4 separate regions of the Homo sapiens genome follow, and all the other regions are linked to region 3. The links come from fine-mapping of genetic effects on gene expression. A gene starts in region 3. Each other region holds a variant in brackets. All regions are shown on one strand. Distances are from middle to middle.

Evidence for each region. PIP is the estimated chance that this variant, and not a neighbour inherited with it, causes the effect.
Region 1: its variant is fine-mapped to the expression of UCKL1 in whole blood (TOPMed, PIP above 0.99).
Region 2: its variant is fine-mapped to the expression of UCKL1 in whole blood (TOPMed, PIP above 0.99).
Region 4: its variant is fine-mapped to the expression of UCKL1 in monocytes (TOPMed, PIP above 0.99).

What each region holds. Positions count from the first base shown.
Region 1 is chr20:63,922,736-63,930,205 of GRCh38, forward strand. It overlaps DNAJC5 (DnaJ heat shock protein family (Hsp40) member C5), which reads left to right. Exons shown (of 5, transcript NM_025219.3): 2 at 5,600-5,717; 3 at 6,577-6,790. The coding sequence starts at 5,611. Among named protein-coding and RNA genes, the nearest start is that of MIR941-5, 6.6 kb to the left of the region's middle. The variant T/C (reference allele first, on the strand shown) is at 4,171.
Region 2 is chr20:63,930,710-63,938,179 of GRCh38, forward strand. It overlaps DNAJC5 (DnaJ heat shock protein family (Hsp40) member C5), which reads left to right. Exons shown (of 5, transcript NM_025219.3): 4 at 142-313; 5 at 756-5,302. The coding sequence ends at 859. Among named protein-coding and RNA genes, the nearest start is that of MIR1914, 7.1 kb to the right of the region's middle. RefSeq lists an enhancer at 1,527-2,028. The variant C/T (reference allele first, on the strand shown) is at 2,162.
Region 3 is chr20:63,951,559-63,958,758 of GRCh38, forward strand. It overlaps UCKL1 (uridine-cytidine kinase 1 like 1), which reads right to left and starts at 4,858. Exons shown (of 15, transcript NM_017859.4): 1 at 4,702-4,858. The coding sequence starts at 4,814. It overlaps ZNF512B (zinc finger protein 512B), which reads right to left. Exons shown (of 17, transcript NM_020713.3): 17 at 5,146-7,200. It overlaps UCKL1-AS1 (UCKL1 antisense RNA 1), which reads left to right and starts at 1,826. Exons shown (of 1, transcript NR_027287.2): 1 at 1,826-5,427. RefSeq lists silencers at 3,945-4,254, 4,305-4,354, 4,455-4,824, 5,415-5,624 and enhancers at 4,955-5,014, 5,044-5,931, 5,932-6,817.
Region 4 is chr20:63,906,470-63,913,939 of GRCh38, forward strand. All of the region lies in intron 1 of DNAJC5 (DnaJ heat shock protein family (Hsp40) member C5), which reads left to right. It also overlaps the pseudogene RNU1-134P. Among named protein-coding and RNA genes, the nearest start is that of MIR941-1, 9.2 kb to the right of the region's middle. RefSeq lists enhancers at 3,887-4,386, 5,808-6,308. The variant G/A (reference allele first, on the strand shown) is at 3,368.

The DNA of each region.
Region 1 (7,470 bases), 29 kb before region 3:
TTCCAGCCTGGGTGACAGAGCAAGACCCTGTCTCCAAACAAACAAAAAAGCAAAAAATGGTGTTTTACCTAGGTATTTACCATTTCCAGTGGTCTTCATTCCTTTCTAAAAATCTAGGTTTTAGCCGGACATGGTGGCTCATGCCTGTAATCCCCAGCACTTTGGGAGGCTGAGGCGGGTGGCTCACCTGAGGTCAGGAGTTCCAGACCAGCCTAGCCAACATGGCAAAACCCAATCTCTACTAAAAATACAAAAATTAGCCAGGCGTGGTGGTACGTGCCTGTAGTCCCAGCTATTCAGGAGGCTACGGCAGGAGAATCGCTTGAGCCTGGAAGGTGGAGGTTGCAGTGAGCTGAGATTGCACCACTGCACTCCAGCCTGGGCAACAGAGTGAGACTCTGTCTCAAAAAAGAAAAAAAAAAGAATAAGTCACATTTTGGTGAGGAGCAGTGGCTTGCACCTATAATCCTGGCACTTTGGGAGGCTGAGGCAGGAGGATCACTTGAGACCAGCCTGGGCAACAAAGCCAGACCGTGTCTCTATAGAAAATTTTAAAGTTAGCTGGGCATGGTGGCACATTCCTGTAGTCTTAGCTGCTTGGGATGCTGAGAAGGGAGGCTTTCTTGAGTCCAGGATTTCAAGGCTGCAGTGAGCCAAGATCGCACCACTGCACTCCAGCCTGGGCAACAGAGAAAAACCTTGTTTCTAAAAAAAAAAATTAGGCTGGGTAGGGTGGCTCACACCTGTGATCCCAGCACTTTGGGAGGCTGTAGCAGGCGGATTGCTTGAGTCTGGGAGTTTGAGACCAACAAGATCCTGACTCTATAAAAATTTTAAAAAATAGCTGGGCGTGGTATTGCACACCTGTAGTCCCAGCTACTCAGGAGGCTGAGGTGGGGGGATCAGCTGAGCCCAGGAGGTCAAGGTTGCAGTGAGCTGAAATGTGACCACTGCACTCCAGCCCGGGCAATAAAGTCAGGCGGGGAAAAGAAAGAATGAGTTAACATTTTCTCAGCTTTATGTGTTGAGTGATTTTGGATTCTATCCTGAAATGGTAAGAATGAAAAGAAAATCTGCCAAGTCCATCCGTTCCTACACTCTCACTGCCTCCAAGTCATTCTGCGCTCTTGAGCCAGAACGACCTGGCCGTTTTTAAAAATGGAGTTTTTTGCCTTAGTAATTGACTTGTGTAAGAGTTCTTTATTCCACTTGTGAATTGTTTTTTATACGTACATAATGTAAATATTTTCTCCCCTTCTGTGCCTTTCAGTATGAATCTATCTGAACTCGATTCTGCTGTTGTGTGTGTGTCTTTTCCTCAGTACCAGATGGTCTTGATTACTGTAGATATATAGTATATGTCTTGAAATCAATAGGGTAAATTCTCTAACTTTTGTTCTTTTTATTAATGTTGCTGTGGCTAATCTGTCTGCTACATTTCCTTATACATTTAAAAAAATCAGTATCAGTTTCTGCAAAAAAAAATCCTCTTGGATTAGGGTTAGGCTTCTGTCAAGTCTACAGATCAGTTTGGGGAGAACTGACTTCTTTATATCGAGGCTTCTAATCCGTGAACATGAGGAATCTTTTTCTTATCTTTAGTATCTTAGCAATTTGTGGTTTTCAACGTACAGATTTCATAGGTCTTGTTATTTCTTTTTCTTTTTTTGAAACAAGGTCTCACTGTGTCACCCAGGCTACAGTGTGGTGGCACGATCATGGCTCACTGCAGCCTCGAGCTTCTGGGCTCAGCCATCCTCTTATCTCAACCTCCTGTGTCACTAGGACCACAGACATGAGCCACCATGCCTATTTAACTTAAAAACAAAAACAAAAAACCGGGCACGGTGGCTCATGCCTGTAATCGCAGCACTTTGGGAGGCCGAGGGGGGGATTGACTGAGGCCAGGAGTCCGTGACCAGCCTGGACAACATGGCAAAACCCTGTCTCTAAAAATACAAAAATTAGCTGGGTGCAGTGGTGCGTGCCTGTAGTCCCGTGCCTGCGGCATGGGAATGGGTTGAGCCTGGGAGGCGGAGGTTGCAGTGAGTTGATGACTTAGGATTTTTCTTCTCGGTCACTTTGCAAGCCGGGGACCCCTGGCCAGTGATGCCCCACCTGGGCCCTGCTTGGCCACACTGGCGTGCCCCAACTCACCTGTGTTATAGCTTGTACTGTGTTCGGCCATTCCCGAGCTCATGTACCGCACTCAAGATCAAGGATACACTGGACATTGAAGGGTGAGGAGGGCGGAGAAGAACTTTATTGAGCAGTGAAACAGCTTTCAGCGGACCAGGGGATGCAGGGGTGGTTCCCCTACCTGAAGGCAGGAAAGTCCGCCTGTGTGGCTGGGTCTGGGGCTTTTTATGGACTCAGGATGCGGAGTGCTTGCAGAGCTTGCTGATGGGTTTGTGAGTATGCAGAAAAGGTTAAAGTGGGCATGACAGTGTAGAAAACCAATTATAAGAGGCCGGGCACGGTGGCTCACGCCTGTAATCCCAGCACTTTAGGAGGCTGAGGCAGACGGATCACAAGGTCAGGAGTTCAAGACCATCCTGGTCAATGTGGTGAAACCCCATCTCTACTAAAAATACAAAAATTACCTGGGCGTGGTTCGCGTGCCTGTAGTCCCAGTGACTTGGGAGGCTGAAGCAGAAGAATCGCTTGAACCCGGGAGGCAGAGATTGCAGTGAACTGAGGTCACACCACTGCACTCCAGCCTGGGCAAACAGAGCGAGACTCCACCTCAAAAATAAAAATTAGGAAAGGGTAGGTATGTGTAAAATAGGTGAAGGATGGGGATCAATCAGAGGAAAGTGTGGCAAACAGGAAGGCAAGTTCTTCATCTAGTCTGAGGATTTAACTTGTAGCTCAGCTGTCAGGCTTTAAACTGTCTTTGGCTTGGAGGTGGGTTTCACCGGGAACCCGCCCCATCTGCCTGGCATTCAGCTGCCTCCTGCCAGTATCACCGAGATCGCGTCACCGCACTCCAGCCTGGGCAACAAAGCGAGACTATCTCAAAACCCCATATTGATGTCATTTCCTAAATATTTGGTTAAAAAAAAAATCTGGGCCTGGAATTTTATCTGGTTTTTTTTTTTTTTTTTTTTGAGACGGAGTCTCGCTGTGTCGCCCAGGCTGGAGTGCAGTGGTGCGATCTCTGCTCACTGCAAGCTCCGCCTTCCGGGTTAACGTCATTCTCCTGCCTCAGCCTCCCGAGTAGCTGGGACTACAGGTGCCTGCCACCACTTCCGGCTAATTTTTTTGTATTTTTATTAGAGATGGGGTTTCACTGTGTTAGCCAGGATGGTCTCAATCTCCTGATCTCGTGATCTGCCCGCCTTGGCCTCCCAAAGTGCTGGGATTACAGGCGTGAGCCACGGCGCCTGGCCTTCTGGGGATTTTTTATTACAAATATAACTTTATTAACAGATGCAGGCCTATTCAGATTTTCTATTTCATGTCAGTCTTGGTAAATTGTAATTTTCAAGATATTTGTCCATTTCATCTAATTTTTCTAATTTCTTGGCATGAAGTTGTTCGTATTTTATCCTTTTCACGCCTCTAGGATCTGTAGTGATGTCTTTCCTCATGTTGCTCAAAGAACCAACTCTTTTGGCTTTGTTGAAGTTATCTGTTTGTTTTCATGGATTTCTGTTCCTTATGATTTCCTTGCTTGCATTTATGTTGGGTTTATCCTGTTACTTTGTAGCTTCCTGAGGCGGAGCCTTAGGCCTTGATTAACGTGTTGTACTAGTCAGCATTCTGCAGAGGAACGTTGCCATTATCTGTGTCTCTTTCTAAAGGAGATTTGTTATGAGGAATTGGCCCACGTCATTATGGAGACGGAATCTCATGCTCTGCCATTTGCTGAAGATTGAGGAAAGCAGTGGGATAATAACAGTCCAAGGACAGGAGGAGACACGTGGCCCCGCTCAGGCTGGCAGGCGAGAAGGAAAACCCAGGCCAACTCCTCCTCCCACCCCTTTCTATTCGGGACCCCCGTGGACTGGGACGACACTCACCTGCACAGGGCAGCGCAGTTGGCTTCATGGAGCCCCCAGCTCAGGTGCTGCTCTTACCAAGAAACACCCTCCCAGGCACACCCTGAAGTCATGTTTCATCTGGGTGCCCCACGATGCAGCAAAGGAGACATGAAATTAACCGTCA[T/C]GTACACTGTATTTATTATTCAATTCAAAACATTTTCTAAGTTCCCCTGGGATTTCTTCTTTGAGCTACATGTTAGCCGGAGGTGTGTTGTTGAATATCAAGAGTATCTTCCTCCTGGGTTTCCAGTTTGTAGCTAAGTCAGGGATAGTGCTGTGTGTGACCTCATTCCATTACGTTTATTGAAACCAGCTTGAAGCCCTAACATGTGGCTTGTCTTAGTGTACAGCATTCAGTTAAAAACAATGTGTGTTCTCTAGATGTTGGGTGTTCTGTGACTGTCACGTCATGGTGGTTGATTAGTTAGAAACAATGTAGAAACAATGTGTATTTGCCAGGCGCTGTGGCTCACACCTATAACCCCAGCACTGTGGGAGGCTGAGGCAGGCGGATCACCTGAGGTCGGGAGTTCAGCCTGAGGTCGGGAATTCAAGACCAGCCTGGCCAACATGGAGAAACCCCATCTCTACTAAAAATACCAAAATTAGCTGGGTGTGGTGGCACATGCCTGTAATCCCAGCTACTCCTGTGTGAGGCTGAGGCAGGAGCATTGCTTGAACCGGGGAGGCGGAGGTTGTGGTGAGCCGAGATCGTGCCATTGCACTCCAGCCTGGGCAACAAGAGCAAAACTGTCCCCCCCCCCAAAAAAGAAAGAAAGAAACTGTGTGTTCTCTAGATGTTGGGTGTTCTGTGAAGATCAGGTCATGGTGGTTGATAGTGTTGTTCAGAACATCGATGTTTTTCCTGATTTTTGGTCTGTTCTGTCGATTTCTGAGAAAGTATTAAAATTAAAGTTGGGTCTTGCATTTTTATCCATTCTGTCAGTCCCTTACTTTAATTGGAGTTTTTTGTCCACTAACATTGAATTTAATTGTTGATATGTTTGGATTTAGATCTTCCAACTAATTTTCTATTTGTTTCCTGTGTTGAGTTACTTTTTCATTTTTCTTGTAACTTTTTAGCTTATACCTCTTTGCATTTTTTATGCAGAGGTTGCTGTAAGGATTACAATATGCATGTTTATTTTAATTAATTAATTTATTTTGTTTATTTATATATTTGTTTTTAAGGAACAGGGTCCCTGTCTCCTGGGCTCCAGTGCAGTGGAGTGATCATAGCTCACTGCAGCCTCAAACTCCTGGGCTCAAGCGGTCCTCCCGCCTCAGCCTCCCAAAATGCTGGGACTACAGGTGTGAGCCCCTGTGCCGGCCCACAGTACACAGCTGCAGTTCTTCAGGATCTCTTGGGGTGGCCGTATTCTGCCGTCTCACACTTCTCCATGCCATGGCGTCTGTCTGTGCACGTGGCAAACTCCACAAGGCAGTGTTGGATTCTTTTGCTTTGAACGGTCTTATGGAATAAAGTCCATCAGCTCTGCCCTTGGTACTTTCATCTATACTTTGTGATACTTTCTTTTTATTTTTTCTTCTAGAATAGCCTAACATGGCAGACCAGAGACAGCGCTCACTGTCTACCTCTGGGGAGTCATTGTACCACGTCCTTGGGTTGGACAAGAACGCAACCTCAGATGACATTAAAAAGTCCTATCGGTAAGTGGACAAGTGTGGCCCCCACATCCCCCCAGGAAGACACACATGCCCCGTGTGGTTTAGTCTGCATTTTACCAAGAACCATTGCACATACTTTATCCTGGCCGACTCAGCGTTGAACTGGTCACAGCTCGGTAACACCTTTGTATGTGTAATGTGCTCCTTATAGCTTAAAGTTATGGTATTCATGTTCTCTTGCCAACAAAAAATAGCACTTAGTAGAAACTGACACACTGTCCACAGTTCCATAGGGAGTCAGGGTCTGAACCTGTTTGAGGCCTCACAGGAGCCGCAGAGCGCTGGCATGGTCCTGTGGTCTCCTTGTTTTAGCACAGTGATGACAGAGACCCCTCACTCTGTTGTGGCCTTCTGATTGAGCTTGAAGAACTGCACTCTTGGGTACAGTTTCATTGAGTAACCTGTAAGAGACACCATCACTAATCCAGACAATTCAGATAGTCCTCCTCTCGTGTGCTAGCATCGTGTAGTTCATAAAACACTTCTTAAAGTGCCATCATTACGCCCCGCCGTGCTTACCGTTCACTTGGCACTTGTGCAGTTAGCGGCTGGGACACCAGGGCTGGCCTTGGTGCCGCTGAACTTAGATGTGCCGTGGCACTCACAGCCCTTGGGGCTCCCTCCTCTGAGGCTGGGTCAGGGTGAGGAGGTTTACCTGAAACAACCGCGGAGCTTGCTTTTGTCCCTGGCCCCTGCAGCCCTGGAGAGTCGGACAGTGAGGTGGCCTGGGTGGACCTGCCTTCCACTGCACCCGGCAGTGCGTGCGGGTGGGATGGACGCGGCGGCGGGTGCGGGTGGAACAAAGTCCAGGGTAGAGCCAGGACATGGTTTTGGTTTGCAGGAAGCTTGCCTTGAAATATCACCCCGACAAGAACCCCGACAACCCGGAGGCCGCGGACAAGTTTAAGGAGATCAACAACGCGCACGCCATCCTCACGGACGCCACAAAAAGGAACATCTACGACAAGTACGGCTCGCTGGGTCTCTACGTGGCCGAGCAGTTTGGGGAAGAGAACGTGAACACCTACTTCGTGCTGTCCAGCTGGTGGGCCAAGGTGAGGGCGAGCTGCCTGCCGTGCGGGCACCCGAGTCACTCCTGCCGTGCGGGCACCCGAGTCTCTCCTGCCGTGCGGGCACCCGAGTCACTCCTGCCGTGCGGGCACCCGAGTCTCTCCTGCCGTGCGGGCACCCGAGTCTCTCCTGCCGTGCGGGCACCCGAGTCACTCCTGCCGTGCGGGCGCCCGAGTCACTCCTGCCGTGCGGGCACCCGAGTCTCTCCTGCCATGTGGGCACCCGGGTCACTCCACGCCTGCAGGGTTCCCAGCATTGCAGAGCCCATGCGTTGATGCCAGCAACTCTACACTCCTGAGAAAAGGCTTCTGGGCATATGGAGCCTTTCTCCTCACCTGTGTGATGGGCGAAGCTCTGTCACTGGCTTGGTGTCCTGCCTGGAACAAGCCATAGCGTACAGATTGTCCCAGGGAAGAGCCGTGCGGAGCCGCCAGGGTTTCTTCTGTAAATGGCTCCCAGTCCTTCGTGAGACAGGAGGAAATAAGCCTCGATGTTACATCCGCATTTCTTCGTTTCCTCGTTTTGTTCCAAATGTCATATATGAGGCCAGAGGGTTGGAATCACTGCATGGCATTTGTGAGAAGCCTGTATTTGGCTTTGACTGGTCGGCCTCCTCACTAGAATCCTTATAAAGTACTTTTTATTTAGTTAATGTTAGACAGAG
Region 2 (7,470 bases), 21 kb before region 3:
TTTCCTTCTGCTTCCTGTCTGGAAGGCAGTATCCCCACCTGGAACGCACCCCCTGCCTTCTGCTGAGGGCATTTGGGAGTCCTGCGCCTCCCTCTCCAGGGGCCTCGGAGGCCATGCAACACCACCTTCTTCTCCCCCCAGGCCCTGTTTGTCTTCTGCGGCCTCCTCACGTGCTGCTACTGCTGCTGCTGTCTGTGCTGCTGCTTCAACTGCTGCTGCGGGAAGTGTAAGCCCAAGGCGCCTGAAGGCGAGGAGACGGAGTTCTACGTGTCCCCCGAGGATCTGGAGGCACAGCTGCAGTCTGACGAGAGGGGTGAGTGCCCGCCCCAGGGCCCGTGTGTGTGTGTGGGGCAGAGCCAGAATGGGCCCTGAATGGTGTCAACCTGTCTTGTCAAACAGGAGGGCACTGACACTGTGCCGCGAGTGTTTGTGGTGGCAGCTGGGACTGTTGAGGTGTGAACGTGGACCCTGAGGTAAAGCAGGCGCATAGAGCTGTCCCCGCCGTGACCTGCGGTAGCCGTAGATCCCAGGGACTGCGAGGCGGGGCAGGGCGGCAGGCAGTTGGGGCGGGGCTGAGGGCCGAGGGCTGGCGGTGACCCAAGGCGACGGAGGAAAGCCGTGTGGGGTGGAGGTCAGCGAGTAGCCTCTCCCGGTGGAGAGTTTGTCCAGGTGCCCGAAAGTCGCTCCACAGGACCAGCGTTGGGTGCGCGCCAGGCTGTGGCCCTCGTGCAGTGCCCTGTGTGCTTGCTTTTCAGAGGCCACAGACACGCCGATCGTCATACAGCCGGCATCCGCCACCGAGACCACCCAGCTCACAGCCGACTCCCACCCCAGCTACCACACTGACGGGTTCAACTAAATCCAGGAGGAGCTGTGGTCAGAGGAGGAGCCGGCGCCTGGCCACGCCAACCTTAGAATCATGAACTGTAGTCACAGAGATGGGAAGGCAGCCTCCTGCCTGCCCTGGCCTTGCTGGGGCCCCTCCTGCCTCCACGCCCACCCAGCGTCGACCCTTGACCCACGAAGTGCGTAGCATGCAGTATTTAAAGCAGTGTAGCTACGGTCTTCTGTTTTTTTCCCTTTTTTAATAGCATGTATGGGGTTCTGTTCCATGTCTGTGTTGTGGACATTCCGCGGCATGACCGCGTGAACTGCACGGTGGAGCTGCCTCAGGGCTGTCGGTCAGGTTGGTCCAGTGAGGGGTGACTGCAGCCGGTCAGGTGGGCGAGGAGAAGGGGGGCTGCCCCTTTCCTACCTGTGCTTGAGGGGCCGGAGGCAGGTGCTGCCTGGCAGAGCTGTGTTACCGTCTTGGCCTCGGGGTCTGGTCCACACTCTGTGCTCCCAGCCTTGAGGCTGCAGTAGGACTCTGATCTCACCTGCCAGAAGAGAGGCGGGGCCGCGTCCTCCTGGCGTCACCGGCGTCACTGTCATTCCTTGGTGTCTGTGCTGGGCATGGTTGGCTTGGGGGTCTGTGGTTTCCTGGGCCTTGTGGCAGGGTTTCTCCCGTGGGAGAATTTGGTGTGGAAAGCATAGGAGGCCCCTTCCGAGGTTGACACCGTGTCCTCCGCGGTGTTTCTCGCCTGGTCGTCTCGTCGTGTGGACGCTGCCGTTCTGGTTCTCGGAGGTGTGTCCTTCGCCGTGTTGGGGTTATTTGTCTGTGTTCCTGCACTTTTCCCGGGCTCTGAGCTGGATTGATGGGGCCAGTCTCCCCCCTCCCATCTTGAGGTCGTTCTCCACATTCCTTCCAGCACACCTGTCCTTTCCATAGCCCTTTTTGGACCTTTAGAACCACAGATGATAGGACCAGCCCAATGAGCCACAGTCAGAGAGTAGATTGTGCATGTGTGAGCACCCAGCTACTGGGGACGGGGGCTCTCCCACGACCCCTCCTCCTGTGTTTGCCAGAGCTCCCATCTGCCCCACTCGCCTTTGCCCCGTCATCGATGATTCAGGCAGAGCCAGATTCGTTAGGTCCCTGGAGGAAGGACTGACTGGACCAGAGGGACCCTCTGGCTCAGGAGGGTTGGGTCCCTGGGAGGCCGGCAGCCAGGCCACAGAATCCACACGTGGACCATTGTGGGTCCCTGGGAGGCCGGCAGCCAGGCCACGGAATCCACACGTGGACCATTGTGGGTCCCTTGGGAGGCCAGCAGCCAGACTA[C/T]GGAATCCACATGTGGACCATGGGAAGTCAGTCTCTTGCGTGTCCTAGACCTTGTGGGTGGCGCCCTGCATAGGGGAGCAGGGGGAACGGGTCTGATGTCCCTGTGCTGGCTGAGGGCTCAGAGCTGCCCGCACTCCGTAGCTCATGGGATGTGCTGGGCCTGCCTTTGGCGCCATGCTGCAGACTCCAGTGGGCCTGGTTTCTGCAGAATGTCCATGGTGGCCGCTGCAGAGTTGCAGAGGTCCCTGTAGAGATAAAGCTGAGGAGGAGGCTGTGTGTGATGGCTCTGGCTCGGACCAACCAGATGAGCCTCCTGAAGCCCCCTTCCCTGCCTGCCTGCTGACCCGTGGCCCCAGCTCACTCATTGCCCTCAGCAGCCACCCGAGGCTGTGCAGAAGGGTAGGTTCAGGTTGACCAGGAAGCTGCCAAAAGGGACATGGATATGAGGATACATCTGGACGTGCTTAGGAACAGGGTGCTGGTTGAGGGCCCCCAGCTGACCCCTACTGCAGATCCGCATGTGGACCATGAGCCGGCTGCCAGCACTAGGTCCTGGGCAGCTTTGTTTGTCCCACTTTTCTTTGTTTCTTCTCACTAAAATGATCACGAAGACCTTTGACAAGAGGAGAGATATGCACTGTGATATTAAATTAGAAATAATTTATCAAAATCAGACCTCTCCTAAAAGAATAAGAAATTCATTGTTTGGCCCATCCTGAAAGGTGAGGTGGCGAGACAGTGGGGTGCCTCCGTGCCGCTTCGTGCAGCAGCAAGTTCAGCCTGAGATGCTGGCTGTACTCAGCCTTTGCAATTTTTGTAGATGTAGCTTAGGACGTGAGTTATTTTTCCGCAGACTGGCCAAGAGCCAGGTTCTAAGCTTGGACCTAAGGTAGAAAGCTGCCCATCGGGGGCCCTAGCTCAGCCCCACCAGGCCCTCTGTTGGGCCTGCACACAGCTCTGTGGCTAGAACACTCCAAGGCCCTTCGGTACCCATCAGAGTGGGCCCCTTGCCAGGTGGCTTTTCAGTTACAGAGTCCAGTGGACCATTTTGTAGAACCATGCAGCTCCCTGCGGAAGGTGGGGTAGGGTGGGAAAGAGGAGCAGGTCTGGAGGTTTGTGGAACCCAGTCCCCTGCAGAATCTGTAAAACCTAATAAATCATGGTTGTGGCCATTCTCACGGTGGTGATTGTGATTAGACGACCCCCGGGAAGCCCAGACACTCGGGGCCTGGAGTTCCTCCCCCTGCCTGACCTAGAAGCAGAACCGTTTTCAGCGCTCTGCCCTGTTGGCTTTAAGGCTTTGTCTTAATTTAAGGAAAAAGATCCTCCCGGGTTTTATTTCTCTCTTTCTTGAGTGGACTGTTTCCCTATAATTAAAAGAGGTGGTGAGTCCTGGGGCAGCTTCCGCGCCTCCCTGTCCACGTGCTAACAGATCAGGACGCCCCCAGCACCCCTGCCTGCTTTTGCTGGTGGCAGTGACGGGACCCCGACTCCTCACTCTCGGGCCGCAGACAATGCTGTGAGCAAGTGTGGCCATGGGCACAGAATGTCCCTTTGGACGCCGCTGCTGGGGGCTGCCAGGGGCCCTCTGGGGTCGTGCTTTGAGGCCCGTCCGGTTCACGAGGGGGTCCGGGCAGCACTGACTGCTTCCGACCTGCAGGAGGCGTAGGAGCGGCCCTGCGGGCCCTTTCACGGCAGCTGCTGCTGTATAGATTTGTCTCCACTCAGTGACGTGGGATTTTTTTGTCTTCCTTTTGGCTTTATTTTTAAACTGCTTTAGATATTACTGCTCAGTGTTTGTGAACTTTCCTAGTTCTCTATGTTGTTAGTGCAGCCAGCACCCAGTGGGGACCTACTAGAAAAAGGAACTGGCATGCACACGTGCCCAGCAGGAAAAGCTTCGTCTTCACGTCGGCTGCTGCCATCCAGAAGAGGCCCTGGAGCCTCACGCCGTCGAGGCTGCTCTCAGGCGTTCTGTTCCGGGCGAGGCTTGTGCTGCAAGGAAGGGCACCAGCATGCAGGCTGCCACTGGAGGGTCCGGGTGCTGCGGGCAGAGTTCAGCGCTTGTCCACCCTCCCTTAGCTCTGACTCAGTGCATCCTACTGTGGGGACATCTCGTGAGGGGACACGAAATGACTGATCTCACCCTTTCCCAGTATTCAGAGCTGTGAACCCCTGTGGCGCAGGACTGGCCTGTGTCTGTTATTTTGGTTGTAAATCATTCTCCTGTGGAATTGGCAAAAGCTACATTTTTACTGTCCTTACCAGCAACAGTTTGCGTCGTCACATGCTGTGAGTGTGGGCTGTGGTGTGTCCGTGTGTGTACATATGTGTATATGTATATATCACGCAGCAGGAGTGTCATTCATGCTGCTGTCCCCTGGTGAAGTGACAAGTACAATTAAAGGTGGCTCTGAAATGGCCTCTGGTTTCTTGGGAGTCGGGCAGGGACCTGCAGGAGGCTTTCCCAGCAGGTGCACAGAAGGAAGCGCTGAGCCCACTGTGTGCAGAGGGTGTGTGCCCAGGGCACTGCCACGGCCCCCACCAGCATTGGCCTCTGCTCTGCAGGGTGGGGTGCCCATCCTGGGGGCTGTGTGTCATGCTCACCTGACCCAGGTGTGTGTCCCGGTGTGAAATCGAGGAGGGGACTGGAAGCCCTTCCCTGCCTTGAAACATGAAAGCTGATTTTCTGAGCAGCAGATACGGTCAGTGGCAAAGCTGCATCTGAAGGGCGGCCTGGGAAGGGGCCCTGTGCTGGCCCCGGGTCCGCCCCAGAGGAGTCCACACAGCACCACCTCCAGAAGGGGCTGGGCCCGGGGTCCTGCAGGCGGCACCTTTTGGTAGAGTTTGTTTCCCTGGAAAATGGGGAAAATGTTTCAAGCCAGGTGAGGGGGGAAGTTAACACTGAAATATGTATTGTTTTTAAAAATCAAATGCACACGCATGGAAGCTGCTTGTCCATGCACTGGTTTTGTCACTGGCGTCCTGGAATCCGACCGTGTTGGGGTGCAGGCGCTGTCAGACTCCGGCTGATCCTGGCTCGAGCACACACATCTAAGGGCCAGGCTGGTTCCGCATGGTGATCTCCGTCTTGTATGTCTGAATGTTGGCCTAAAATAAAGATTACTGTTGTAAAATAAATGTTTTCACTGCGGACCCCACGTATGTCTTACTCGCTAGTCCCGCAGATCCCTGGTTTTGGAGAGCAGCAGCTGATCTCAGCCCTCCACACCCCTTGCGGCTGGAACCTTGCTTCCCTCCTGCCTGGTCCAGATGTGGATAAATGCCCCCTCCTCTTGATTGTGTTTTCACCTCCGTTTTCTAAATACCAAGACTGGAGCAAAGAGGCCAAGCGTGGTGGCTCATGCCTATAATCCCAGCACTTTGGGAGGCCAGTGTGGGAGGATTGCTTTGAGCCCAGGAGTTCAAGACCAACCTGGGCAACAGTGAGATCGTGTCTCTACAAAAAAGAGTTTAAAATTATCTGGGTGTAGCCGTGCCTGAGGTCCCAGCTCGTCAGGAGGGAAATCACTTGAGCATGGGAAGTCCACGCTACAGTGAGCTGTGGTCACACCACCGAACTCCAGCCTGGGTGACAGAGGGAGATCCTGTCAACAAACTAACAAAAACTCAGAATAACGTAACAAACATCTTGAAATCCTCTATTCTGACTTAAGAAAAACGAAGGAAGGGCCAGGCATGGTGGCTCACGCTTGTAATCCCCAGCACTTTGGGAGGCCGAGGTGGGTGGATCATGAGGTCAGGAGATCTGAGACCATCCTGGCCAACATGGTGAAACCCCGTCTTTACTGAAAATACAAAAAAAATTAGCTGAGCGTGGTGGTGCGTGCCTGTAGTCCCAGCTACTCAAGAGGCTTAGGCAGGAGAATCGCTAGAACCCGGGAGGTGGAGGTTGCAACGCACCGAGATCGTGCCACCGCTCTCCAGCCTGGGTGGGAGAGCGAGACTCCGTCTCAAAAAAAAAAAAAAATTTGAGTCAGATTTTCCATTTTAAAAAAATGGCAGCATCCAAGACCGTTTTGCGTCTCTCCCCATTTCCATCCTCTGCTTCCATAGCTTTAAACTCTGTCTACCACTGTCAGGTCCAGTAAGACGTACTATTGGTTTATACCTTTTTACATAAATTGTACTACACCATAGTACTGAGTACACCACCTGCCTTATGAGTTTGTTTGTTTTTTTTTTTTTTGAGATGGAGTCTCGCTCTGTCACCCAGGCTGGAGTGCAGTGGCGCGATCTTGGCTCACTGCAACCTCCGCCTCCTGGGTTCACGCCATTTAGGAAAACGCATGCCTCACCCTCCCGAGTAGCTGGGACTACAGGCGCCCGCCACCACGCCTGGCTAATTTTTTGTATTTTTAGTGGAGATGGGGTTTCACCGTGTTAGCCAGGATGGTCTCGGATCTCCTGACCTTGTGATCTGCCCACCTCGGCCTCCCAAAGTGCTGGGATTACAGGCATGAGCCACCGCGCCCGGCCTGTTTTTGTTTTTGAGACGGAGTCTTTGTGGCCCAGGCTGGAGTGCAGTGGCACAATCTCGGCTCACTACAACCTTCATCTCCTGGGTTGAAGTGATTCTTGTGCCTCAGCCTCCTGAGTAGCTGGGATTACAGGCATGTGCCACCACGCCTGGCTAACTTTTTGTATTTAGTAGACGGGGTTTCACCATGTTGGCCAGCCTGATCTTGAACTCCGGACCTCAGGTAATCCGCCCGCCTCGGCCTCCCAGGGTGCTGGGATTACAGGCGTGAGCCACTGCACCAGGCCTAAGTTTTTCATTTGATACAGTAGTAGTTAAGAAATCAAGCCGTGTGGTTATATTAGGTCTGGTTCATTTTAGCTTCTGTACAGAACAGTCACGAATTAATCACAGTCGGTCCTGGGCAAACTGACCACAGGTTTTTAGTTTCTCACTGTGGAAACAAAGCTGCCTGAATGTCGCTGCTGAGTTGTCTCGGGTGGGATCGCTGGGAGCGGGATCTGGAAGCCTTCCCTTGACTGGTGGCCCCACACTGCCCTGCAAAGAGGCTCCCCATCTTCTCGCTGCCCCTTCTAGCCTTAGCGTTGTCAGACGTTTTTTTCTGGCTTGGTCTTTGAATTTTCTTAATTAAGTAGAATCCACGTTTATTAAGTTCAGTTTTTTTTTTCTTTTTCCTTTGAGACAGAGTCTTGCTCTGTCATCCAGGCTGGTGTGCAATGGCGCGATCTCGGTTCACTGCAGCTTCCGCCTCCTGCGTTCAAGCGATTCTTGTACCTCAGCCTCCCGAGTAGCTGGGACTAAAGGCGCG
Region 3 (7,200 bases):
GGCACCATCTGAAAATAACTGCCTTGCCCTACCCCCACTCACGGGGGATCCTGCAGGGACCTGCAGCCACCCAGGGCTCACCACCCAGGGCTCAGCAGAGCACAGGGGACACAGCCACCTCCCCGCCCAGGGCTCAGCAGGGCACAGGGGACACAGCCACCTCCCCGCCCAGGGCTCAGCAGGGCACAGGGGACACAGCCACCTCCCCGCCCAGGGCTCAGCAGGGCACAGGGGACACAGCCACCTCCCCGCCCACAGAAACAGGGTTTCGGCCCCACCCTCCGCAGAGTCAGTCAAGGATGTGCACAGAGAAGTCCTGGCAGCCCTAAGCTCTCTCCCAGGGGCAGACAGGTCAGCCATGGGTGTCAGCTTCCTCCTACCATGGGTTTCTCTTGGAGCTTCTAGTACTGAGGCAGGGGCTGCCAGAAGCTCAGGGAAAAGGGAAGACTCCACATGGAGGTCATACTCCTCAATAGTAGGCCACTCCTGGGAGCTGCCTCAGAGGCAGGACCGGCCCATCTGTCTGTGTCCACAGGTGCTTCCTCTCCTCATTCTGCTCCCAGGAGGCGGCTACATCCCTCACTTGGGAAGTGGGCAGGAGACAGCCCAGGGTCGGGGAGGCGGAGGCTGTCCTGAGCAGGGGCGCAGAGTCCGGGCTCCTGGGGGCCATGCCACTGGCTGGGCTGTCTGAACAGCAGAGTGGACGCAGACTGGTCTTGCCTGGCATGGGCATGCACCCTGGCTGCCCTAGCCGGCCAAGAGGCAAGGCTACAGGCCTGGGGAAGCCAGCACTGTGCTGGCCAGGCGAGGGACGGAGGAGCCCAGGCACGCAGCTGTGAATGGAACCACCAGGCCCCACCCTGGAATCACGTCGCCTCGCTGCAGGCCACGTGGTCCCCAACATGCCCCTCCACGGGGCTGCTCTCGGCCACAGCAGCCCACGGCAGGGAGGGGCCGCTCACGGTGGGGAGGGGTAGCCTGCCCTGGTCCTATTCACTGGTGTTCCTCCCAGGTTCTAACTTCCTGAGCTGGGCCGGTCCAGAGAACTCCCATTCCCACGCCACCCACAGGTGCTGATGCCGCGCTGGGGTAAGCGCTGCCCAGAGCACCTTCTGCCTAAGGCTTCCTCCTTGCAGGTGGGGCTGTCTGAGGCCCGTGGTGCTGGAGGCTGCCTCAGTCACTTCAGGGCACCCCTTGCCCTTCCCTCACCTTCAGCCATCCTACTCTGGGCCACAGCACAGTCGAATGTGGCTCAGTCCCCTCCACGGAGCCACAGCTTGCCTCAGTTTCCTCCTCAAGGACTAACAGCAGGTTCATTACAGGTGGGTCAGCTCATAAAGTCCAAGGCAGATGCCTCATCGGTGATCAGGCCCCATAACTGATGTCATCGTCAAGAAATAGGCACAGGTGGCCGGGCGCGGTGGCTCACGCCTGTCATCCCAGCACTGTGGGAGGCCGAGGCGGGCGGATCACCCAAGGTCGGAGTTTGAGACCAGCCTCAACGTGGAGAAACCTTATCTCTACTAGAAATACAAAATTAGCTGGGCACGGTGGCACATGCCTGTAATCCCAGCACTTTGGGAGGCCAAGGCAGGTGGATCACCTGAGGTTGGGCGTTTGAGACCAGCCTGACCAACATGGAGAAACCCTGTCTCTACTAAAAACACAAAATTAGCCGGGCGTAGTGGCACATGCCTGTAATCCCAGCTACTTGGGAGGCTGAGGCAGGAGAATTGCTTGAACCCGGGAGGCAGAGGTTGCTGTGAGCTGAGATTGCGCCACTGCAATCCAGCCTGGGCAACAAGAGCAAAACTCCATCTCAAAAACAAAACAAAACAAAACAAAAGAAATACACACAGGCAGCCGGGTGCAGTGGCTCACGCCTGTAATCCCAGCACTTTCAGAGGCTGAGCGGGCAGATCATCTGAGGTCAGGAGTTCAAGACCAGCCTGGCCAACATGGTGAAACCCCGTCTCTACTAAAAATACAAAAAATTAGCTGGGCGTGGTGGCGGGCGCCTGTAGTCCCAGCTACTCGGGAGGCTGAGGCAGGAGAACTGCTTGAACCCGGGAGGCGGAGGTTGCAGTGAGCCGAGATGGTGCCATTGCACTCCAGCCCAGGACTCTATCTCCAAAAAAAAAAGAAAGGAAGAAAAATAAGCACAGGCATGTGTGGAGACCTGGAGGCAGGGCTGCCCCTCACGAACCATCCACAATGCCAAGGAAACCAGAAGCAAACGTCCAGCAGCAGGGAGCGCAGGGCATGTGAAACCGACACTGAGGAAACAGCCACGGGAGAGAGCACACAGGGAGAAAGGAAGGCTCGGGCACTCCCTTGCTGTGGTTCAGGCCTGTTCTACCACCCCTGGGGTCACCATCGCCCACGGACCTTCCTGCTGGGTGCCTGTAGCACGGCACCTCCTGACAGGTCAGGTTTAAGGGAAGTTTGCTGGATAACTAAAATGAGGCTGGGGGGAGGAGGGAGCAGGGAGGAGCTAGCCCACAGGAGCCAATGCAGGCCTGACCCCACTGGTGCCGGACTGACTCAGGGAGAGTCATTAGGGCTGCTTTCTCAGGCTGGATGAGCACTGGGGGTTGGGGGCTTGCCCTGGCCCACCCCACCACTCAGGAAACCTTCCCTCAGCAGGACCTGCCCTGCACAGATCATGGGCAGCCTCCCTCTGCTCCCCACTTCCACAGCCCCAGACTCCATCTCAACCGCAGCCAGGAGTCACTGCTAACACCACAAAGGACCTGTTCCTGCACCAGCACGGGCCAGCTCTGGGGGCAGGTGCCCAGGACAGAGTCACGAGTGGCAAGCAGACAATAAACAACAGGCAAGATGGACAGACTGATTGCCGGGAGGATGTGGCAGGAGGCACTGGAACGGTGGTGGAGGAACCCCAGCCCTGGGGACAGACCTCCACCCGTGCACAGACCTCCAAGCTGGAGCCTGCTCTGGAACACTAAGGGCAGCAGCAGAGGTTGAAGAGGGGCAGACGCAGGAACGTTGGGGACACGCTCGGGGAACAGTGAGAAAAGCCCTAGGCTGGGGCAGAGGAAGTCCTCGATGGCACAAGCATCAGGACACAAAGTGCAAGAAATGTGCCTAAGACAAGAGGCAGTTCCAGGGCAGACCGGGGCCCCTGGAGAAGGGTGCTGCAATCTATCCTCACTGCCTGGAGCTTCCCTCCTGTCCCTTGGTAACCACACCAAAGAAAGATAACAACAGTCTCTGCCTCGTGGGACACAGCGAGGGCCACCGTGCCCAGCCCACCGTCTGTGCACAGGGCAGGCCCAGATGGCTGCTGCCACCAACCTGTGTCATCCAGGAGTGCCTTTCTCAAGAGCTCTCAGTGCTTATCTAGCGTTGGCCTGCCCCACCTCGGGTTAAATCAAAACCTCTTTGGTGGCTGGGCGCGGTGGCTCACGCCTGTAATCCCACGGAGGCCGAGGCGGGCAGATCACCTGAGGTCAGGAGTTGGAGACCAGCCTGGACAACCTGACAAAATACCTCTCTACTAAAAATACAAAAAAAAATTAGCCGGGCGTGGTGGCGCACACCTGTAATTCCAGCTACTCGGGAGGCTGAGGCAGGAGAATTGCTTGAACTGAGCTCGGGAAAGGGAGGTTGCAGTGAGCCGAGATCGAGCCACTGCACTCCAGCCTGGGCGACAGAGTGAGACTCCATCTCAAAACAAAAAAACAACGCCTCTTTGGAACCAGCAGAGGAACAGACTCAGGCCCTATTAGACTCCAGCCATGCAAAGTTCCTAGTCACTGCCCACTGGGAGGGTGTGGACCTGAAGGGACGCAGGGCCAGGGGAAAGCTCTTTCTGCTCAGCAGCTCCTGGAGAGGAGCGACCCTGTGCCGGGACACCCTTCCCCCTGCGGCATCCAGCGCAGCCCATCTCTGAGGGAGTCCTGGCTCACAGCGTTTCTGACAGGAGTCACAGCCTGAACCCAGGCAAGAGGCGCCTGAGTGGGAACAACCCCTTCCTGGGGACCCCGCGGGCTCCCCAAGGGACACTTCAGACCCGGAAGGGAGGGGCAGCGCCCAGAGCGCCCTCTTGCAGCCCCGGGCACTGCGTGGCCACCGCCCCCTGACGGCCACGGCCCCAAAGGCGCCGCGCAGGGCCCGGCTCCCAGAGGGGCCACTCGGGGTGACGAACCGGGGTGGGGGCGGGTTCCTCCCGCTGCACCCCCACAACTTCCCCACTTCATGCTCTTGCAAAGCCCCCGCAGAGGCTCGAAGGTGCCACGCGCGTGCGAGGCAATCCGAAGGCACCGTGCGCCGCAGCACCTCCAAATCCTAAGCCCTGGCCTCGCGGGTCGGGCAGGGCCACACCCCGAGCCGACAACATAGACCAACTCGCACAGTCGAGCAGGCACACAGCCCGCCGGGCGCTCGAGGCCGAGGGCCCCACCCACCGGGGGCAGAGACCAAGGTCAACGCTGGGGGTGCGCACCCGGACTCCTTCCCCGAGCCCCGAGGAGCCTGCCGGCTTGGGCCAGGTCCGTCCTCCCGGCCGCTTCAAGCCCGCGGGGTTCCACCCGGCACGTGGGAGAACGGGGCGCCGCCGCCTGGCCTCCGGGAGTGGGGGACTTGGGCTCGCGGCGGGGACGGACCACCCGCCCAGCTCGGCCGGATCTGCAGCCCCTTCCCGCTCGCCAGTGGAGTGGAGGCGAGGCCCACGCCTACCGGTCCTCGCACGCGGTCTCGCTTTTCTCAGCCTGCCGGCCTGGTGTGTCTCGGGCCGTAGGTGGCGACGTGGGCGAAGGATCAGCGTCCGCGCGGGCCGGGGGCGCAGCCATGGCGCTCGGAGGCCTCTTTGCGGGCCTGGCCGGGCGGCGCGCATGGGCCGCCGGGAGCTGGCGGGTCCCTCTCTTGCCCACCGCGGACTACAAGCCCCACAAGGCCGCGCGTCGCGGACTACAAGCCCCACAAGGCCGCGCGTCGCGGACTACAAGCCCCACAAGGCCGCGCGTCGCGGACTACAAGCCCCACAAGGCCGCGCGTCGCGGACTACAAGCCCCACAAGGCCGCGCGGCGGGCATGGGGGACCCGTAGTTCGGCAGCCTCCGCCACGTGCCTGGAGGGCCCCGCCCCCTGTTTTTCACCACAAACTGAGCCGCACAAAAACCCTGGAAAAAAATCAATAAACATTTATTTGATACAGTCATTTTAATACATACAGTGATGGCCCGTCCCCACGCCACTCGGGACCAGGGCGCGGGGCGGGGACGAGGACCGGGGACAGATGGTCACAAGGCGGGCGGGGCCCGAACTCACCGTTGAAACATCTCGCAAATAAACACTTTGTAGATAGAATATATATGTATATATATATGGTTACAAGTGATAGCTGGAACCTCTTTCAAAATGCACTTATGTACTGAGAACTGGCATTAAAAAACCCAAACCAAGAAACCCAAAGCACGGGACGCCCGGCCGCGAGGCAGGGGAAAGCCTGGGGCCCCAGACCCGGGCCTGGGGGAGCCGCCTGGGGCCCCGCCAAACGCGGCACACGGGGACGGCCCCTCCCGGGGTCAGGCTCACTGGCTCCTTCCCTTCAGCGCCACCAGGCAGGAGGGCCAACGGTCACACAGGAGGCACCCTCACCTGCCTTTGCACCAGCAAATAAAGTGCATCCCATTTTCGTGTGAGCGTCGGCCCGGTGAGTCAGCCCTTCCGGGCCCTTTCCTGTTCTCAGGGCAGGGGGCGTGCGCTGAGCCAGAGGTAGATCTGCAGAAAGGGCCCCGACTGGGCCTCGGGCAGGGCCGGCGCCCACCACACTCTGGGGGTCAGCTATGCTGGTCCCTCTCACTGAGGGCTCCTGGAGGCCTATGTGGGCCAGCGTAGGGAGTGGGCAGACCCTGCTGAGCTCCACCCAGGGCCCCACCCCTTGGGAGGAGGGCTCTGCGGACCAGCATGTGGCAGAGGGAGGGCAGAAAGGAGGGGGTCAGACCCAACAGCCACTTCTGGCAGTAGCCCCCACGCCTACCTTAAAGACAAAGGGGGTTAAAGTGCTAAACATCAAGGTATCCAGGACTCCTCTTCCCACACCAGGGATTATCTGTGGGCTTTGGGAGTGTCCCGGAAACTCACCCCCAGCAAAAACCAGACCCTCTTCTCTTCTCCCCAAGGGCCAAGTACCTGAGAGGCTGGGGCAGGCACCACACCCTGCAGGTGTTCAGGTCCACCCTCCTCCCGCCATTGGTGGCAAGGACAAAGTGCACCTAGGCCCCCGCCCAGTGCCTGCTCCCCTCCCCTCCCCTCCCCTCCCCTCATGAGGCTGCCCCAGCAGCAGCTGCCAGACCCCACCCTCCACCTCCGGCTCCTCCAGCTCCACCAGTGAAGCTCTGGGACACAGGAAGGAATGCCTCCCCCGACCCTCTGACGCTGGGTCACGCCCATCTCTGCCCCAGCCTCCATCCTCTCATCAGGCCGAGGTGTGCGTGGGTGGGGGGAGTCCGGGTCTCCACACCCACTCCCTGGCACATCTGGCAAGGGCTGCTGAGGGTTGGAGCCTTCTGGCCCAAGGATGAAGCCAGAGACAGGAAGTGTTCTGCAACCCCAGTCCCCAAAGTGCTCCTGGAACTTGTCTCCCTACTACTGCAGGCCAAGCCCAGTGGGGCCCCTTCTCCCTGGGGAATGGGGGAGGGTGGGTGCTGGGGGCAGAGGCAGTGCCCAGTCAGTACTGCCTCCCTGAGCAGCAAGGGACCCCAACCCCAGAGACCCACGCCCTGGTCCAGCCCAGCCCCCAGGCCCACCGTCTGCACCAGGAAACCCTTAGCACCAAATGTCGGATTGCGAGTGTTTGTATAAAAAACAATTTAAAAAAAAGGTTGTTACTTGTCACAGCAACAAGACTGGCATCCACTACACCCAGGAGACACACGCACACGGGCAAACATCAAAATTCTCATCGTCCAGGGTCAGTGGGGCCGAGCCCTCAGCCCACTCCCACCCACCCTGGAAAATGGCCTCCCTCCAAACCTACCCCCTCTGAGCCTCATCCTCCCTGCAATGCCGTGGTTGGAAGGCAGGACCCCAGGGAGGGAGCCACAGGCTGTGGCCACCTCTTCCAGGCACCCTGGACTCCCTGCCTGACCCCTGCCCTACCTATAGACCCAGCCGTCCTCAGGGCCACAAAGGGGCAAAGACAGCTCTGGAGCTGCCATCAACCTGCTGTGACTT
Region 4 (7,470 bases), 45 kb before region 3:
ATAGAAAGACTCTGTCTTAATAAATAAATTAATAGCCGAGCACGCTGGCTCACGCCTGTAATCCCAGCATTTTGGGAGGCCGAGACGGGCAGATCATGAGGTCAGGAGATCGAGACCATCCTGGCTAACACGATGAAACCCCGTCTCTACTAAAAATACAAAAAAAGCCGGGTGTGATGGTGGGCGCCTGTATATAGTCCCAGCTACTCGGGAGGCTGAGGCAGGAGAATGGCGTGAACCTGGGAGGTGGAGCTTGCAGTGAGCCGAGATCGCGCCACTGCACTCCAGCCTGGGTGAGTGATCGAGACTCTGTCTCAAAAAAAATTAATTAATTAATTAAAATATGACAGTGGCCTGGGTGCCATCGCTCGCACCTGTAATCCCAGCACATTGGGAGTCTAAGGTGGGAGGATCACTTGAGCTCAGGAGTTTGCCTAGCCTGGGCAACTTAGGGAGATCCTGCCTCTACAAAAAATAAAAAATTATCCAAGTGTGGTGGTTGCACACCTGTAGTCCCAACTACTTCGGAGGGTTGCAGGAGTCCAGGAGGTCAAGGCTGCCGTGAGGTGTGATTGAGCCACTGCACTCCTACCTGGGTGATATAGTGAGACTCTGTCTCTAAAATAAAATAAAATAAAATAAATGACAGTGGTCCATATAGTACCTTATTCAGAAAAGGCTTGATGTACAAGAAAATAAGTTATTTGTGATCAGGACAGAGAAGAATTACTGCCTTTTGTGAAATGGATGCTGAGAATCAGTTACGATGTACGGTGCTTGGGAGGCTGACTTTGATTTCAGTTACAGCCCTGCTGATCCTTAGCACGGTGACTGCAAATAGGTTACTCCACCTTCCTGAGTCTCAGTCTTCTTAGCCGAAAAGCACAGATCATCATCATAATAGCTAACATTAACTGTGTGCCTGGCATAGGGTCTGACCGCTTTATTCAAGCCAGCTCCCAGACATACCTTGCTGGACTGTTTAATGCCCATTCGACAAAGAGGAGATCGACATGGGGAGGTGTTGAGTAACTTGCCTGGCCACTGAGTCCCTGTCAATGGCAGCTCAGACAGGTGACCCCAGAGCTACCCTCCCACCCCCTGACCAGGCCCGTCTCACAGGCCTCTTAGGAAGGGCTCTGTTCAGTAGATGGCAGGCACGTGGTAAGTGTTTCCTAAGCTGCAGCTGCTGTGTAGATAAAACTCAAAGCAGATATCACAAGTTTTGTCAGATCATACTGTCTCAATTTTGAGGTGAATGCATGTGTTTTACTACTTAACTACCTCTGAAATTTAGGGGTTTTTTGTTTGTTTTGAGACGGAGTCTCGCTCTGTCGACAGGCTGGAGTGCAGTGGCGCGATCTCGGCTCATTGCATCCTCTGCCTCCCGGCTTCAAGTGATTCTCCTGTCTCAGCTTCCCCAGTAGCTGGGCCTACGGGCATGTGCACCATCACGCCTGGCTAATTTTTGTATTTTTAGTAGAGTCGGGGTTTCACCAGGTTGGCGAGGCTAGTCTCGAACTCCTGAGCTCGTGATCCCCCCACCTTGGCCTCCCGAAGTGCTGGGATTACAGGCGTGAGCCACTGCGCCTGGCCCTGAAATTTCGCATGTTTTACGGTTGGCTTGTTAGGGTTAAATTGGTGCACCTTATACTTGGTTGCATACTAGACTCACTGGAATGATTTGACTTTCGTCATAGTTGCAGAGGCACTCTGAAACCCTATGTATGTGCTTCACCAGGGACAGCCCCACGCATGGGAGGTGGTGGCCAGCCATCACCCCAGGGTGAATTTCTCTAAGAGCAGTCCTAGGCCAGGGGGTGAGTGTGGGAAAGTCAGGGCCGTTTCCATCAGTTAACGTTTCAGAGCGGGTTCCCGCTGGAAGTGCTGGAAATACCCAGATGCCATCTGTAGCATTTTATGAACTGTGGCGGATCCACTCTCTGTGTCTTGAGCTTCTGCTCTGTGGTCTGCTCAGTGGAAGCATCCTGTCAGTCCACTGTACAGTGGGGTGGAGCCGCAGCCAGGGTGGGTGTGCCGTTTGATTGGTCACGGAATGAACAGGGCAAAGGTCACTAAGTAGATATGATACTGCAAGTAGGATTGTGGTCATAGGTATTTTTATGAATTTGTGTTATGTGAAGTTGAGGATTTGAATGTTGTGATTATTATATCCAGATAAAGTTCTAGCCTGGCACAGTGCAGGCACGTGCCTGTGGTCCCAGCTGCTTGAAGTGGGAGGAGAGCTTCAGCTCAGGATTTCCAGGCTATAGGGAGCTGTGGTCCCACCATTGCACCCCAGCCTGGGTGACAGAGTGAGACCCCATCTCAAAAAGAAAAGAAAAGAGGCTAGGCGCAGTGGCTCAGGCCTGTAATTCAAGCACTTTGGGAGGCTGAGGCAGGCGGATCACTTGAAGTCTGGAGTTCGAGACCAGCCTGGCCAACATGGTGAAACCCCCCCATCTCTATTAAAAATACAAAAATCATACTTACCCGGCAGGGGAGATACCATGATCGCGAAGGTGGTTTTCCCAGGGCAAGGCTTAGCCATTGCACTCCGGATGTGCTGAGCCCTGCGTTTTCCCCAAATGTGGGAAACTTGACTGCGTAATTTGTGGTAGTGGAGGGACTGTGTTCACACTGTCCCCCCCGCCCAAAAAAATAAAAATACAAAAATCAGTCGGGCGTGGTGGCTCACGCCTGTCATCCCAGCACTTTGGGAAGCCGAGGTGGGTGGATCACCTGAGGTCAGGAGTTTGAGACCAGCCTGGCCAACATGGTGAAAATTGGGAGGCCGAGGCGGGCGGATCCCAAGGTCAGGAGATCGATACATCCTGGCTAACACAGTGAAACCCCGTCTCTACTAAAAATAAAAAAAAAAAAATTAGCCGGGCGTGGTGGCGGGCGCCTGTAGTCCCAGCTACTCGGGAGGCTGAGGCAGGAGAATGGCGTGAACCAGGGAGGCGGAGCTTGCAGTGAGCCGAGATGGCGCCACTGCACTGCAGCCTGGGCGACAGAGCGAGATTCCGTCTCAAAAACAACAACAAGAACAACAACAAAAAATTAGCCGGGAGCAGTGATGCGTGCCGTAGTCCCAGCTACTCTGGAGGCTGAGGCAGGAGAATCACTTGAGCCTGGGAGGCAGAGGCTGCAGTGAGCCGAGATTGTGCCACTGCACTCCAGCCTGGGCGACAGAGCAAGACTCCGTCTCAAAGAAAGAAAAAGAAAGAAAAAAGTCTTCCCCGTGAGAGTAGATTTCTACTGAATCGATTGCTGGTTTTATGCCTTTTCTTCCGTGATAGGAAGTATGTCCAGACTCATCTGGCTGGGGATCCTCAGGAGAGCCTGCGGGGGGCAGCAGAGGCCC[G/A]CCTGGGCCAGGGCGTGCACCAGACCAGAATCCTGCGGATTTAGTATTGTGAGGGTAGAAGACCAGCAAGCAGCATGACCTCGTGGTTACTGATCTTATGAAGAACACTTGTCTTTCATATTTGGGACTGTGTTAAGGTTTTCTGGAATATTTTTGGTTGTAGTAACGATTCTGCTTTAGGAGCTTTCTTCTCTAGTGTTGCACAGACCTGAGTGATTTGACCAGCAGTGCTGCGGTAACGGAAGACCACTCGTGTCTTCAGACTCGTTCTGTTCCTGGGGGTGCTTGCTTGTTCTAGGCCCCCTTTGTATGGAGAGGTTCAAACCTTGATTGAATAGTCGCTACCCAGGTGTCATAACCTGTGGCCTCATTGGTGTCACCTGGACTTTTTGTCTGCTGTTTGCACCATCGAAAGTGATGTGCGCTGGCCGGGCGCGGTGGCTCACGCCTGTGGTCCCAGCACTTTGGGAGGCGGGGGTGGGCAGATCACAAGGTCAGGAGATGGAGACCATCCTGGCTAACACGGTGAAACCCCATCTCTACTAAAAATACAAAAATTAGCTGGGCATGGTTGCGAGTGCCTGTAGTCCCAGCTACTCGGGAGGCTGAGGCAGGAGAATGGCGTGAACCTGGGAGGCAGAGCTTGCAGTGAGTGGAGATCGCGCCACTGCACTCCAGCCTGGGCAACAGAGCGAGACTCCCTCTCGAAAAAAAAAAGTGATGTGCGCTTGGGACTGGGAGGGCGAGGCCCGAGGTACCTGGGTGCCCGATGCCCAGGAGGGCATGAGTGTCGTGTTGGATAACCTGCTCTCCAAGTAATAGGGTTTTGAGAATGTTTTTTTTTTTTTTTAATTGAGACAGAGTCTGACTCTGTCGCCCAGGCTGGAGTGCCATGGTATGATCTCGGCTCAGTGCAACCTCTGCCTCCCAGGTTCAAGCGATTCTCCTGCCTCAGCCTCCCAAGTAGCTGGGACTACAGGTGCCCGCCACCACACCCGGCTAATTTTTGTATTTTTAGTAGAGACGGGGGTTCACCATGTTGGCCAGGCTGGTCTATCTCCTGACCTCATGATCCGCCTGCCTTGGCCTCCCAAAGTACTGGGATTATAGGCCTGAGCCACCATGCCCGGCCTGTTCAATTCTTTGTATTCAAATGTATATCTGGAGTTATTTTGTTCAACTTCTGATCTGCTTTTCTTTTTGAATTACTGTATTCTAAGCATCAGTTTACAAGAAAAAAAATCTTTATTAGGTTTCCAGACCCAAGTCAATACCAATAAAATTAATGCAGCAAACATTCACTGAATGCTCTATTAGGACCTGGGGCAGTAGATGAGTCTGTGAATTAAAAGGGCTTCAGCATGTGGGGTTTGGTTTTGTTTCTCTGTAGCTAATCATACCTTTGGAATGGTTTTATAGTTTCAGGAAACCGTGGTTCTGGGCAGGGTGGCAGCTATGGGTTGAGGCAGTTGATCCTTCCTCAGGTGTGGCCGCTGGTCTTGTTGCTTCTTGACATTAACTTTGTGACTCACGAGGGCAGGCGTTCGTTTTCTGTGGCACTCTGTGTGTGAGCGAGCATGGGGCTTGTTACTGTGTGAAAAGGGCCAGCTGCCCTGCCTGTCTGCTCCTCCCTGGCTCGGCCGGGCGCTGCCATGGCTCCAGCTCAGATTCACTTCCTCTCGTACTTGGATGCTTGGTGATGGTCGTGGAAGCAGTTTTATTTTCTCTTGCTGTTCTCGTGTTGCGTTAAGCTCAGCATCACTGTTGCTTTTTATTCTTAGAATTAAGGAGGAAAGCTGAAATCTTTTGGGGATTTCTGTGTTTCCAGGGACTTTAGGAATTCTTTTTTTTTTTTGAGACAGGGTCTTGCTCTGTCAATCAGGCTGGAGTGCGGTGGCGCGATCTCGGCTCCCTGCAGCCTTGACCTCCTGGGCTCGAGTGATCCTCCCATCCCAACCACCTGAGTAACTGGGACCACAGGTGTGCACCATCACGCCTGGCGAGTTTTTGTATTTTTTTTTTTAATAGAGATGGGGTTTCACCATGTTGCCCAGAATGATCAAACTTCTAGGTTCAAGCAGTCTCCCCACCTCAGCCTTCCAAAGTGTTGGGATTACAGGCATGAACTGCCATGGCCGGCTGGAAAGTCTTTACATTTGAAATTCATTTTAAGTTAGGAGGAAAGGCCTAGCACACTGGCTCATATCTGTAATCCCATCACTTTGGGAGGCTGAGGTGGGCGGATCACTTGAGGCCGGGAGTTTGAGTCCAACCTGGCCAATATAGCAAAACCTCATCTCTGCTAACAATACAAAAATTATCTGGGCATGGCGGCAGATGCCTGTGATCCCAGCTACTCGGGAAGCTGAGGCAGGAGAATCGCTTGAACCCGGGAGGCGGAGGTTGCAGTGAGCTGAAAGTGCACTACTGCACTCCAGCGTGGGCGACAGAGTGAGAATCGGTCTCCAAAAAAAAAAAAAAAAGAGTAAAGGTGAGGGACACCTGTGATGTGGCACACAGCGTCTTTTCTCTAGCTTGCTTTGTTGACTCTTGTTTATAATTTCTTCAAATGTATTTACAGAGTTAATTGGGTTTTTTTTGGAATAGATAATATCTATTCCAAATAAAAATCCAGAAATACACATTCAAACTGTGGGGCTTTTACCCTTTTAACTGTGTTCCAAGTCCCTGTCCCTAGCATGCTCTGATTGTCAGTCCTTCCCTTGCCTGACCTACCTGTCTGAGTATCCTTTGGCAGTCAGGTTTTTGTTTGTTTGTTTTTGAGACGGAGTCTCGCTCTGTCGCCCAGGCTGCAGGCTGGAGTGCAGTGGCGTGATCTCAGCTCACTGCAACCTCCAACTCCCGGGTTCAAGCGATTCTTGTGACTCAGCCTCACGAGTAGCTGGGACTACAGGCGCCTGCCACCACGTCCAGCTAATTTTTGTATTTTTTAGTTGAGACGGGGTTTCACCATGTTGGCCAGGATGGTCTTGATCTCCTGACCTCGTGATCTGGCCACCTTGGCCTCCCAAAGTGCTGGGATGACAGGTTTGGCCACCGTGCCCGGCCGGCAGTCAGTTTTTACATGGTTCATCACAGATTTTAAATTAAGATTCCCCAGCAGGATAAAAGAAATGCCAGTTGTATTTTATTTTTCGTATTTGTATTTTTAGCAATTTTTTTTTTTTGTATAGAATGAGCCAAGGGCATCTAGAGCAAAGAGGTAGTTCCCTGCCCCGTCTCCATCTCCCTGTCTGCACTGTCTCTCCCAGAGGTGTTTGCTGGTGCCTTCTTTGCAGTTCCCTGTGCTGTGTCATGCCCGTTTGCTGACCCAGCCCCTGCTGTGTCTTCCCCATCCCAGTGTGACTGTCGCTCTTGGTAGTTCCTCCGTGTTTCCTTTGTTTCCTTAGGTGACTTGTCTTTGCCCCACTCCCTGCAGTCCGCAGCACCTGTTGTCTCCTTCCCTCTCCTCCCGCTTCTCCTCAGACGTCATCTGTTCTTTCTAGAGTTGTTCCCCTTGCCCCAGGGTCCAGGGTTCCTAACAGCCTGTTTTTTTTCTTTCTTTTTTTTTTTTTAGTGAGACAGAGTCTCGCTCTGTTGCCCAGGCTGGAGTGCAGTGGTGCGGTCTCAGCTCACTGCAGCCTCTGCCTCCTGGGTTCAAGTGATTCTCCCGCCTCAGTCTTCTGAGTAGCTGGGACTATAGGCGTGCACTACCATACCTGGCTGATTTTTGTATTTTTATTTTTTATTTATTGTTGAGACAGGGTCTCTTTGTTGCCCAAGCTGGAGTGCAGTGGTGCCATCTTGGCTCACTGCAACCTCCACCTCCTGGGTTCAAGTGATTCTCCTGCCTCAGCCTCCCAAGTAGCTTACAGTAGGGATTGCGGGCACCTACGACCACGCCCAGCTAATTTTGTATTTTTAGTACAGATAGGGTTTCACCATGTTGACCACCTGGTCTCAAACTCCTGACCTCAGGGGATCCGCCCACCTTGGCCTCCCAAAGTGCTGGGATTGCAGGCGTGAGCCACCGCGCCAGGCCCTAACAGCCACCTTCTTAGCATCTGTATATTCAGACCGTCCATTGCAGGATGTGTGATCTT